Homo sapiens: one gene and its partners. The protein of the gene in region 1 purifies or fractionates together with the protein of each later gene. This does not show direct contact. Each region holds a gene or a part of one and is shown in the gene's direction. Other genes may lie near its edges.

Evidence for each region. Proteins that work in one complex are often made in the same cells at the same time.
Region 2: the proteins of NAPG (region 1) and NBAS purify together in Homo sapiens (affinity purification with mass spectrometry; 3 studies listed by BioGRID and IntAct, with this or other methods). This does not show direct contact.
Region 3: the proteins of NAPG (region 1) and VTI1A purify together in Homo sapiens (affinity purification with mass spectrometry; 2 studies listed by BioGRID and IntAct, with this or other methods). This does not show direct contact.
Region 4: the proteins of NAPG (region 1) and SCFD2 purify together in Homo sapiens (affinity purification with mass spectrometry; 3 studies listed by BioGRID and IntAct, with this or other methods). This does not show direct contact.

The regions. Positions count from the first base shown.
Region 1 is NC_000018.10:10,546,527-10,550,026, forward strand, and holds part of NAPG (gamma-soluble NSF attachment protein), read left to right. Parts: intron 1-1,772; coding exon 1,773-1,852; intron 1,853-2,440; coding exon 2,441-2,570; intron 2,571-3,500. UniProt on the Homo sapiens protein: Required for vesicular transport between the endoplasmic reticulum and the Golgi apparatus.
Region 2 is NC_000002.12:15,274,835-15,278,334, reverse strand, and holds part of NBAS (NBAS subunit of NRZ tethering complex), read left to right. Parts: intron 1-1,233; coding exon 1,234-1,484; intron 1,485-2,516; coding exon 2,517-2,851; intron 2,852-3,500. UniProt on the Homo sapiens protein: Involved in Golgi-to-endoplasmic reticulum (ER) retrograde transport; the function is proposed to depend on its association in the NRZ complex which is believed to play a role in SNARE assembly at the ER. Required for normal embryonic development.
Region 3 is NC_000010.11:112,814,215-112,816,729, forward strand, and holds part of VTI1A (vesicle transport through interaction with t-SNAREs homolog 1A), read left to right. Parts: intron 1-1,075; coding exon 1,076-1,169; 3' UTR 1,170-2,515. UniProt on the Homo sapiens protein: V-SNARE that mediates vesicle transport pathways through interactions with t-SNAREs on the target membrane. These interactions are proposed to mediate aspects of the specificity of vesicle trafficking and to promote fusion of the lipid bilayers.
Region 4 is NC_000004.12:52,873,062-52,876,561, reverse strand, and holds part of SCFD2 (sec1 family domain-containing protein 2), read left to right. Parts: intron 1-2,500; coding exon 2,501-2,593; 3' UTR 2,594-3,500. UniProt on the Homo sapiens protein: May be involved in protein transport.

The DNA.
Region 1 (3,500 bases):
GCCTCTATTTTTGACCAAGATAGAGTAAGCCCACTACAGCTTGTTTCTCTGCTGATTACAGCTAAACTACTGGATAAAATACAAAAGCAACCACCCTTGAACTCTGAAAAGTAAATAAAAAGAGACTAAGGAGAGGAGCAAACACGTGGAGAAACAACCACCATGGGAATGAGTTTCTCGGGTTTTTTTCCATTTCCTCTTGCAGCATTCATTGCCCTGCCCTGAGAGAAGCCCACAGTTGTGGAGCTGGGCAGCAAAGGCTGCAACAATGAAAACTCCAAAAGAAACCCCGCCTTTCTAACCAGCAATGGGAGAAGAGGTCCCATTGTTTTCCTCTCCTTTGGCTTTGCTCCAAGCTTGTCCCAGGCATGGAGCTACACTGTGATGATGGCTCAGGTTGATAAAACTCCACAAGGACCCCAGTCTCTTTTGCCAGAGGAACTAGGAAAATGAGCTAGAGAGCAAGGAGAAAATTCCGGAAAGGAGAGAGCTGGAAACGGAGTCCCCTGAGTGTGGATGTGGCCCACACAAGTCTTGGGTTTACTCTTCAGCTGTGCTGAGACAGGCCTCAAAGTAGCAGTGCAGCGCAAAGCTTGGAGAGCTAAGATTTCATCACTGTCGAAGTGTTGCACTGCCCTCTGAAGGGCTTATGCATGGAACAGGCCCAAAGCCACATAGCAAAGGATTTGAATTAAGTGTAGAACTTCCATCCACCAAAAACAAGGCACCACATGTAGTCTGAACCTAACTGGGGTGATTACCTGCTGAAAACATCTGTACTCTCCTGAAAATTAAGCAGAGGCTGTGCAGCATCACATTCACAGTACAATCCAGAATTACTCAACATGCAAGAACCTGGAAATATGACCAGTTTTCAGGAGAAAAGACAACTGATGGCAACCCGGCAGTGACCAGGGTTGTTGGCATTATCACATAAAGACTGAAGCAACTATAAGTTGCTCCATGAGGTAAAGATAAACACAATTAAAATGAATAGAAAAGAGGACCTGTTGTTTTTTATAGGAAAAATTATTTTTATAGAAACTATAAAAATGAACTAATTGGGAATTTTAGGACTGGCAAATACATTATTGAAGTAAAATAATTGGATAAGCTTAATCTCAGAGATGACAGAAGGAAGACTTTGTGAACTTAAAGATAGATCAGTAAAAGTTACCTAAACAATAGAGACACCAAAAGATGGAAAAATACTTCATGAAGACCTATTTTTCCAGTAATTTATCAGTCATATCCTTGATCTTATTACTACTTTTATTGTTGACTTATCAATACTATCATTGTTTCTGTTATCTGAAGTTTTCACTCATACATCTTTTTCCTAGTTTCTTTTTAAGGATTCTAAGTATCATTGTGGTGTTACGGGTCCCCCCCACTTCTTTTTTATTCACTTTTCAAGATTGAATCTGTGTAGATATTTGAAAGAGATCTCTTTAAAACGTGGTTGTGATCTAAGGCTTGTGTCAAAGTGCGGTCCCCAGACCAGCAGCAGGAGTGCCCCCTGGAATTTGTTAGAAATGGGTGAATCCCAGGCTTGCCCCTAGCAGCCAAATTCCAGGACATGAGAATTGGAAAAGTACTGTTCTAGGATATTTCCCCTCAGGTGTCCCGTGGAAGTTACTATAGCATTTATAAATCTCTGTTTATACAAACAAAGACTCTGAAAGTTAAACTCCAGGTGTTTTCAATACTGCCAGGTTATTGACTTTATTAAACAGATGTAAATTTGACCATGATCCTCTCTTTTGTTTTAGAAAACAATTGCTCAAGTCTTAGTTCATCTACACAGAAATGACTATGTAGCTGCAGAAAGATGTGTCCGGGAGAGCTATAGGTAAGACGTTGTCTGGGCCCTCTTGACTTGCAGTGGCGACACCTCTGTGTCTACAACTAAGATTGCTGCTAGGACACATGTTCCTGGCCATGAAACTGTCATTTCTAAATCTTAGGAGTGCTCATCTACCATTTCATCTTTTACAGTGGGTGTTTTACACCTTTTTTTTTTTTCCCTTTCCTGTATTTTTCTCTAGGGGACCTCCATGGAAGTGAATGACTTTAGTCATTTTAGTCATTTTATTTGCCTTCTAAGAAAAAAAGAACAAGAAAAAGGGGGAAAAAATTATCAGATTTATGTTACAGAAATCAAAATGAGGAATTTTCTCGGTGTTTAACATGAGCAGTCTTAATCTCAACACTGTTAACATTTGGGCTGGATAATTCTTTGTGGTCGGGCCTGTCCTGTGCACTGTAGGCTGGTTAGCGGGATCCCCGGTCTCTGCCCTCTAGATGCCACTAGCATTCCCACACTTTTAAGTACCAAAATGTCTCCAGACAGTGTCACATGCCAGGGGCAGAATCATCCCTGCCTGAGATGTGTTCTTTTAAGGAGAAGGTGAAGACGTGTGATTTGTGCTTACTGCAGCATCCCTGGGTTCAATGGCAGTGAAGACTGTGCTGCCCTGGAACAGCTTCTTGAAGGTTATGACCAGCAAGACCAAGATCAGGTGTCAGATGTCTGCAACTCACCGCTTTTCAAGTACATGGACAATGATGTAAGTGGACCCATTTGCATAGCTTTCATCTTTTCTCTTGAAAGAAAGAGGTTTCTAGTGAGATTATTTTTTACCCATGTACTTAAGAGATTTTTTCCTACCTCTTTTTTTCTTCTCAAGCTACTACTCATAAGGAAACTGACCACTTGCATTGAATTTCACCATAGATTTAGATAAAATAGATGTTAGTTGTGTGGTGTATAGCCATTTACTCACCCATCTAACTCTGTTGACCATATACATATTTTAAAATTGAGGCTCATTTCTCCACTTTTCCTCTATCTGTTGTCCTCTGTAGGTTGCTTTTATTCATTTCTTTTAGACGGACTCTCTGAAAGAGGTCCATTCTGTAGTGGCCTTTGTAATTCAGTAGACCTATGAAAATCTGTGAGGACTAGCTGTGTGTTGCAGGTCATTAATTATCTCTAAGCCTCAGTTAATTCATTTGTAAAAATGAAGCCACTAGTACCTGTCTTGCTGGACTGTTGTGAAGAATACATTAGTCAGTGTGTGAGAAATATCCTCACATGATGTCTTGCACATAAAGTGAACCATGACTATAAGTTTTTATTTTTTCTCATTTGTCTTTTTCAGTAGATTTGTAAGTACCTGTTTGGCCTTAGGCCTTTAGAGTATCATCATAGTATCAGATCAACTTAAGGCCTTCAGTTGTTTATTATAATGATATATGTAGATAATTTTTTTTCTAAATAACGTCTTACATAGGTTTTGAAAATATATATATTTCTAAAGTTTTAATTAAAAAAAATTTATAATTGAAACTTTTACTAGTTGTGTACCTGTCCCACCATGGTCATGAGGCATCTGGGGAGCAGCATTGTTGGGCTTTGTTTTTCCATCTGAATGGTAGAATTGGTGTTCCTGAGGGTGGGGAGCCAGGCTGTGTCTTTTTAGAGCTGAGTAAAACAT
Region 2 (3,500 bases), on another chromosome or scaffold:
AGATAGAGATATTCTTGTAAATGTTTGCACTGTGTCTTAATGGAAAAATAAGGTTTTTCTTGAAGCAAAAGTAAAAAGACCAGTTTTTAAAAATTACTTGATGCTTTGACTTTGTAGATTACCCTTTTTAACCCAAGTGTTGTCACATTCCCCTGAAAGTTTTAAAACATGATTTATACTAACTTTATCTACATAAACCAAAAACATGTCTTTGGGCACTTTCAGTAAACAAGTTGTCATGTTTCAGAGGAGCTGCTTTAGAACTTTTTGAAGCCTAACTTTGTTGCTGCCCAAGGTCTCACTTACTGCCCCCAGATGCTTCTGTTGCTGCTTCCGAGAACCCTAGAACCTGGGTACTTCTGTGAATGCAGGGCTGCCTGAAGGACTCTTACAATTAGGGAGTATGAAACTCATCACGTAAGGGGCATTGAGATTACACTAGACCACAGGCTCTGTCCAGATTCTGTCCAGGGAGAAGCACAAGACCAAAATTAACCCCCTCCTTTCCCCTTCTAAAAGCACAAACCAATCAACCAAGCAAAAATACCTTACTTTTTCTTTTCCCAAGAGTTTAAGTGACTTTTTAAAATTAGATTACAAAGACATCTAAGTTAGGATGAAAATATTAAGATATGTGTTTTATTTAAGTAGCATTACTGCAGATAACCCAAGTGAAAGTTTAATTATCCCTCTTTTTCTATTTTTCTTTTATCTGGACACAGCATAAAATTTGGGTTTATTGAATATTAATTCAAGACTCTTGCATGTAAATCTTAAGCCTGAAAGTTTAGGGTTTTTTCTGTATCATTTCCTAAATTCCTGAAATAATAAGGCTGTTTATGTTTCTGTGAAGAAGTATAGATTTTTAAACCCTTTTTATGAATGAATAAATGATTAAGAGTGGACGCTGACAGATGTTGGTTTATTTTCTAGCTGGGAGACATCAGACAGCTCTCCCAACTGCAGGAACTTGAAGTTAAAGCTACTTCACAGGGTTGCTGTAGACCCCCGTGAGATAACATGACGAGTGTGTAGTCAGTTAAATGTTAGTAGGCATCTAACACATTTGTTTTCCTTTATTCAGGCTGACTGGCTTCTGGTGGTGGTTTACTGTCTTTGAGTAGGCAGGAAGAAGGGAGCTATAAGAAGTAGTGTTTCTTCCTTGGTTAAAAAAAAAATCACTTTAATAAAGGAACAAAATCTTAACACAGTTCCTTTGGCTCTTAATTTCAGTTTGTCCACACTAGAAATTGAAAATAGAGCCCAAGACCTTCATCTCTTTGAGACTTTGAAGACTGATCCAGAAGCCTTTCACCAGCACATGGTCAAGTATATTTACCCTACTATTGGTGGCTTTGATCACGAAAGGCTGCAGTATTATTTCACTCTTCTGGAAAACTGTGGCTGTGCAGATTTGGGGAACTGTGCCATTAAACCAGAAACCCACATTCGACTGCTGAAGAAGTTTAAGGTTGTTGCATCAGGTAGGATGGTTGTTTCCCTGCTTGAATTCATTCTTTTCAATTAAATCTGGGGATTAATTTTCTGTACACAATCCTGTTCATGCATTATGGTTGCAGAGCTCTGAAACCACAGAATTTTGAAGCTAATCGACTTTAGTTATTATCTTTCCAACTCTTTCACTTATAGTTGAGGGAATTAAATACCAGAAAAAGTAAGAAACCTATTGAAAGTCGCACAGTGACTTATGGTAGACTTGGTACTAAAATCCAAAGTTTTGGACTTCTGCTCCAGGATTTTTTCACTACTCCCATTGATTATATTTTATGTATATAAATGGCAAGGCCAAGACACTTTATAATAGGCAGTTGAGCAGAATTTCATTCCACTGGAGCCTATATGTTTAAAATATGCATGGAACACTTAAGAGCCTTTGAATATTTGATAAATTATGGAAATCTTTAGAATGGTCTTTATGCTCATAACTAAGAAATTAAACACTTTAAGACCTCTTAATTTTTATACTTCATAATTTGCAAGGCACATTCAAATCTGTTTGTTTGATATTCATAATAATTGTGAGAGTTCCCATCAGTTTATCAGTTGTTTTCTGAATAATCAAATGAGACACTGGCCTAGACACAGAGGATAAGGGAATAAGATTCAATCCTTGCCTTCAAGTAACTAGTGAAATGCCAGATAAATAACAAAGAAATGTAATGCAGTTTGTTGAAGCACTGATAGAAGAAAACATAGGTGCTGCGGCGGATTCGAAAGGCATGGAGATATTGTCATCTCTAGGGTACAAACAAGGAGATGGAGGCACACAGAAGATGAATGGCCTATCTGGGATCACAAAGCCGAATAAGTTTCAGGCTGTGACTGGAACTCAGATCTCCTGATCTTTCTAATAGAAAATATAAACTAGCTACTTAGAGCTAAGTTGATAGATCTTTGCGTTCAGACATATAGAGGGCTATGTGTGTGTGTTTGAAAGTGACTCTATGTTTACATTGGAATGAACCACTTACCTACTTTCTTTTTTTTTCTGCTAGGTCTTAATTACAAAAAGCTGACAGATGAAAACATGAGTCCTCTTGAAGCATTGGAGCCAGTTCTTTCAAGTCAAAATATCTTGTCTATTTCCAAACTTGTTCCCAAAATCCCTGAAAAGGATGGACAGATGCTTTCCCCAAGCTCTCTGTACACCATCTGGTTACAGAAGTTGTTCTGGACTGGAGACCCTCATCTCATTAAACAAGTCCCAGGCTCTTCACCGGAGTGGCTTCATGCCTATGATGTCTGCATGAAGTACTTTGATCGTCTCCACCCAGGTGACCTCATCACTGTGGTAGATGCAGTTACATTTTCTCCAAAAGCTGTGACCAAGGTAAACAAAAAGATATTTTAAAGTGGTTTGAGCACAGTAGAAGAAATGAAAATTTCTCCTACATTCTGTAGATTTTATTTTTGTTTCCTTTCTTGAAAATAATTACATGTTGGCTTTTTAAAAAGTTTTTGTTCATTTGCTGTGAATGAGGTGTTTTAATTAGGAAATTTTTTTTCTCTATTGTAGATGTACAAATATGCTAAAATAGAGATGACTATTCTCATTTACACGTATACTTAGTACATGTTACAGTTCTCATGTCACTTTATAGTAAATATGCCATTCTGTTCTTTCCAGTTGACAAATGTAAAGGAGCTCCAGTGCCCAGCCCAGATTACCTGCATTCGGAAACCAGGCTAACAACTTAGCTTGGGTTAGCCTGAGTCTTTAAAAAAGTTATTGGCCGGGCATAGCGGCTCAAGCCTGTAATCCCAGCACTTTGGGAGGCCAAGGCAGGCAGATTACCTGAGATCAGGAGTTTGAGACCAGCCTGGCCAATATGGTGAAATCCCATCTCTACTAGAAGAAAAAAAAAAACCAAAAAAAAAAAAATTACCTGGGTGTGGTGGTATGCACCTGTAGTCCCAGCTACTCGGGAGGCTGAGGCAGGAGAATTGCTTGAACCTACGAAACGGAGGTTGGAGTGAGC
Region 3 (2,515 bases), on another chromosome or scaffold:
CCCATGGAAGACCCATGTCCAGTGTTTGGTGACTGGAGTAGGGCAGCAGGCCTTTTGCTGCTTGGTATTTGGAGGAGGGTTGGATGGGGTTTGCCGTGGGGTTTTAAGCTGGACAGATAGCTGGCTAGACTGCCAGCCAGCTCATGTCTCTATTTCCGTGCAGCTCTGTGAGAGCGAGCGTGGGCACGGCTGTTTGACCTAGGTTCCCTTTGAAACTCTCAACAAAGCATTCTGATGTTCGACCTCTTTTCTCCGAATGAGGTAACAAATTATGAAACAACCTCATCAGAAGCTCTCTGCAGGCATCTGGGAGCGTGTGTCTCCACTCTGGTCCCCCTTCTAAGTTGCTGGTTCCCCATCAGCGTGCAGCCCAGCCAGAACCCAGGGAGGTAGAATCCCTGGAGGTAAAGGCCCAGCAACAGACGCACAACAGGCACCTTGAGTACATTGTATATTTCTCATTTCCATCTTTTTTGCTATGGAGCAAATGTAACGTTTCCTCCTAGCGTAACGGAGCGTGAGCCACACTGACAGATGATGGTTTCACAGCCTAAGCTGCACATTTGACACTTGTTTCTTAATCCCATCCTTTTCTTCCTTAGTCTCTGTTTTACTTTTCCCCAGGTATTTTTGTGCAGGTAAGTACATTGCTGACATGTGTTTCCTTGGAGTATTTTACTTTAACAGGAAACACTGCAAAAAATGAGGCTTGTCTCGCCTTTTAAATTAGAAAGAGAAGCTCGCAAGGGGCCCTTGATCACTTAAAGAGGCTACATGATTTTCTGAGCCTCGAAAGCCATTTGATTCGCCTTAGCTTTGCAGTAAGCATTTCTCGGAGGGCAGCGTGACAATCATGTGGAGCCTTTCGTTTCCTCGTGGATCGTTTGTAGAACCAGAAAGCTGCGTGATGTCTCTTTCGCGCGCGCACACACACACACACACACACACACACACACACGCTCCCCACCCCCACCTGCAAAGCTGCCGTTTGATTAGCCAACCTGGCCTCGGACGGCGTTTGTGGGAAGGCCTTCCACTTATCTGTGTGTGTTTTTTCTCCTTTGCTGTCTCCTAGAATCATCCAGAACCGCATCCTGCTCGTCATCCTAGGGATCATCGTGGTCATCACCATCCTGATGGCGATCACTTTTTCTGTCAGAAGACACTGATGTATCTGCTCTCCCTTGATAAACAGCAACAACAGCTTGTTCTGAGTAATTAAGACAAAATGGTCACATGAATCATTCTGTTGCGCTGACAGGCCCCAGGTGACCCTCTCTCTCCCTCACCGCCGTTGGGCTGAAGTGCAAAGAGTGTAAAAATATTTTCTATTCCTGTTTGCATGTGGGTTGGTTTCCTTTTCGAGGTTTGTCTTCACCCAGATTCGTTTTTTAGAGGGGAAGGTGAATGTTTATTTACCTTTTTGCTAATGTCATCAACTAGCCAAAATAGCCCCAGTGACACTCCTAGCCCTCTGGACGTGTCAAGGGCCGTGGTTTGGGAGAGGACATGATGAGTCAGTCACGAGAGCTTCTGTTTGTCACCCGCCTCTTGTTGCTGAAAAGCTCTTCTGTGATGTCTGAGGATAAAAATGCAGCAAAAAGCAGGGGATGGAGTCAGTGACCCCGTCCAGCAAGCCAGCCCTGTTCCTACACAGGCCTCATGAATATAGTCATCAACCTGCCTGAGTGCTTTCATTGTAAAGGTCGGTATTTAATGTCGGTTGTACAGGAAATTGACTTAGCACTTTCCCTGTTTTTCTATTGCATAATTTTTTTTTTAACCCAAAGATATTTTTTTTGCTGAGCCTGCCCAGTATTCACTGTTCACAACTTTGATTACTGGCTACAAGAAATATTTTCTTGCCTTCCCCAAATCCCATACTCCCCAGAATCTGCTGGCAAAGTGAGCCCTGGTACAGGATTTAATTGTGACCTCGTCTTCCCTGACCTGTGTAAGCATCTCTGTATCCTTTCGGTTTTAATATCTGCACTGCCAAAAGCAGTCCTCATACTTGCAAAAGGTCTGACAAGGTTCTCTCCACATACATTCCAGTATGTAAAGAGACCATGAATATTTCAGTAAGAGCAAGAACATGACTCCATCAGTGTGAAATTTCAAATGTGATTATAAATATGGGAGAGTCCTATAGGAGGGTCCACCAGAGATAAACTTCACGGAAAACGTTCCCTAACCTCCTTTAAAAGAATAGAGGATGGCAGATTGTTCCAAAAGGAATGGCTTGGGTTTTTAACTAACAAATGTTAGCAAGCCTTTCTTGAATTCACTATGTATTCAAACTTCTAATATGCTTTGTGATTTTTTTCTTTCATTTCTTTCTGTCTGAGGTAACCAGGAATTGCGTTCAAAATGAGCTCATTTGTGATCAGGCTTAAAAGTTGCCCAAGCTGAGGTCGTTTCCCCCCAGTCACAAAGCAGAATGTTTTTCTCAAGACTTCATAGGCACTTACTGGTCCGTACTATCTTTGGAATATAATTAGAAGCTTTGAATCCT
Region 4 (3,500 bases), on another chromosome or scaffold:
CCCAGGCTCATCTTGAACTCCTGACCTCAGGTGATCCACCCAAATCGGCCTCCCAAAGTGCTGGGATTACAGGAGTGAGCCACCGCACCCAGTTCGAAAAAGGGCTTCTTAATTGTGGTCTGTGAATTCCTAGGAGTTCATGAACCATCCCTAAAACTATAACACAAAATCTTGTATGAATGTCTGTGTATTTTTCTAGAAAGTTCTTAGCTTTCATAAGATTCAAAAGGAGATCTAGGACCAAATCACAAAACCACAATAATACAGCAGCTCACAGTTGCTGAGCACTTCCTGTGCTCCACATACACGATCTTATGTAATCCTTGCCATACTGCCTCAAGCTTGGCACTGTTATTTTCCTTCTGAGAGAGATGAGGTGAGCAAGGCTGTAAGTTGTGACTTTCTGGAGGCATCTGGCCAGTCAGTGTGGAGCTGGGATCTCCTCAGGGTCTGCTGATGGCACTCGCCTGGAAGCCGCCAGGCTCAATTACCTACTAGGTTTGGTGAGGAAGACCTGAAAGACGTAGAGACCCTCTCGGGAGACACACATTCAAACGGTGTCTAAATCATGCATGCAGATGATAGAGAAGGCCAATCTTCACCCACTGTCCTCAAAGGCTCCTTGCATGATTTTCAAGGAAAATCGTGAAACACAGATTTCAGTGAATTTGTTTCTGCCAAAAATATGACTTGGCTGACATTAACTATATATATATATATATATATATATATATATATATATATATATATATATATATAGTTAAAGATAATCCTCTTTCAAGAAGTAACATAGATGCTTCCAAAGACTAAGTTTTTTAAACAGAAAACTTTCTCATAAGGTTGTTGAAAAATTCTTTCTTTAACAACAAGAAATACTTCCTTCTCTCTTCCTCTTCTACTTTTTCTCTTCATTGGAGTATAGACTTTTTGTTTTCCATCAATGAGCTCGTGGACTTGGGGTTGGTTAATTCACTAATTTAATTATACCTGGGACAATTTTGGGAGTGGGCAAGGAGGATAGTAAAGTGTGTGGGCCCACTTGCACCACTCCAAAGGAGCGTAGCCATGTAGTCATGCTGTGGGCCTTGGAATCCCCTTCCAAGGGATGTGGGCTGTGGAATTCAGGCTCTAGGACAGCTTTTCCCATAGTCACCTCTTCTTCTAGGGTGCATACAATACTGCTTGTGCAAAACCTAACCAGGCCCTTGCAAAGCACATCACGCCCCCAGCCCAGACCCAGGGAATAGGCTCTCCCACCTTTGCAGAGATAAATCTGTCCTGGAATAAAATCCAGACTGAGGGAAGCAGAAAGGGTCACCATGAAAGAAGCCAGAGGAGCCCAAAGGTGCATGTGGAGTAAGGGAGTAAAGGGCCCAGAGCCCTTGATGACAGGGAAGGGAGGCACGGGGGCACTGGGGCCAGCCTGTCTGCGCTGGGATCCTGACTCAGCCGCTGACTGTATGTGTGTCCTTGTACAAGTTGCTGAGCCTTTCTGTACTTTATTTTCTTCATCTACAAAGCAGGAAAAATAAACGTATCTATTTCATAAGCTCAATATCAGGATCAAATGGATATTCAATGAGATAATCCTCAGAACCTGGCACATCATAGAAATTAACAAGTATTAGTTATCACTATCATTCCCATCATCGTTATGAGTTGAAATGTGTCCCCTTTAAAATGTCTTGCAGTCCTAACCTCCCCACTGGTATCTGTGAATATGACCTTACTGGAAATAGGATCTTTGCAGATGATCAAGTTAAAATAGGGTCTTTAGTGTGGGCTCTAATCCAGTGTGACTGTATGTATATAAGAAGGGGAAATTTGGACACAGCAACAGACATGCATAGGGAGAGACAATGTGAAGGCACAAGGTAGCTAGGAGAAAGGCATGGAACAGATTCCCTCGCAGCCCTTAGAAGGTGCCAACCCTGCCAACACCTTGATCTTGGACTTCTAGGCTCCAGAACTATGAGACAGTAAGTTTCCATTGTTTAAGCCACCCAGTTTGTGGTACTAGGAAACTAACAATCACCATCATCACTAACAACATCCACCTCCTGGATGTGCCTTCTCATGCTCCCTGGAGGAGCAAAGGCTCCCTGAAATGGGGAGAAACCTTGATATTGACGTCAAATTACTGCATTACAAAGCAAGAATATGATCCAGTTCAATTTAGCAGCAAGGTAGTGGCTGGGCTCTGCCTGTCAAATGTACCTAGTGCCAGTCTCAGCCATCCTGAGTGCCCCATTGGCTAAAGGTTCAGTAGACACAGCCCGGCTGTCCCACAGGCCATCTGTCCCAGACTGTGCCCCCCTCCTTCCAGGCAGGGCACTAGCGCCAGGTGCCATTCAGCTGGCTGCCTTCTACTTTTCCTTCCTAGAACTTCACTTCATGCCCTCCCCCAAAGACATTTGTTGCATTCTATTTCTCATCATCCAATACCCTGAGATTGGCCCCCCTAATTCCCTGCGGTGTGTTTGCCCTCTCCTGTTGTTAGGTAATCGTGCTGTCCACACGACTCCTGAAGCCACTTAACATTCCTGAGCTGTTATTTGCAACTGACCGACTGCATCCAGACCTTGGCTTCTGAGCATCCGCTAAGAAGATAAGACCTACTCAAGCTGGAAATGCCGATGCAATTTTCTGCCACCACTCCAAATACTCCTCCACAACCAGCGTCCCTGTCACTAATTGCGAGAATGATGGAATTCTGCCTGAAGGGTCTTGATACCTACTCAGTGAGGTACTTTGCTTGGATTGCTGTGATTCTTAAAAAAAAAAAAAAAAAGTTTTTTTATTTTCCTGAAGGCGACAGTCTGTCTTTTGGCGAGTCCAATTAGTGATCGTTTCCATTTATCCTTAACCCTCTGTTTGTGATCTTCCTGATTCCACCTACAAGTTCATTAGTTCTAAATAAAAGCCTGTTGGCAAGTGTTGGTAGATTACAACTCTTTTTATTTGAAGTTGCTCGAGAAGTTAGACATGCTTTAGAATTATGAGTGTGGGGAAAATTTGATGTTCCTTAGGATTATATAACTGAGGAGGGAACATTGCAAATAGGGTCTGAGGCTTTGTTTCTCTCTTGCTCTGAAACATTTCTGAAAAGGCAAGGAAGGGAGGGGTAGTGTCTGGGGCAGTGCTGGTAGCCTGCATGTGTTGTAAATCATCCTGCCATAACAAAGGACTGCATTGTTCTAGCTGGCCCACTGGGCAGGTCTGCCAGGCTACTTGGAACTGTAGTGGGAAGGTGGTTGATTGGAGGGTTATCTGTATATAAAAGGTTTTCTCCCCTCCAAAGAAAGACTCCAGTACAAGATACCTGGTCCCAGGGAGTCTAAATTGTAACAGCAACCCCTGTGGACTTTGTGGGTATGAGTTTTGATTGAAATATAAAGCTTTCTTTTCTGTAAGTTTAAGTTTTCCATCTGACCATAGCAGAAAAACCTAGACCCACCTAGTGAAACTTTGTAAGAACTCCAGGGCAAAAACGAACCACT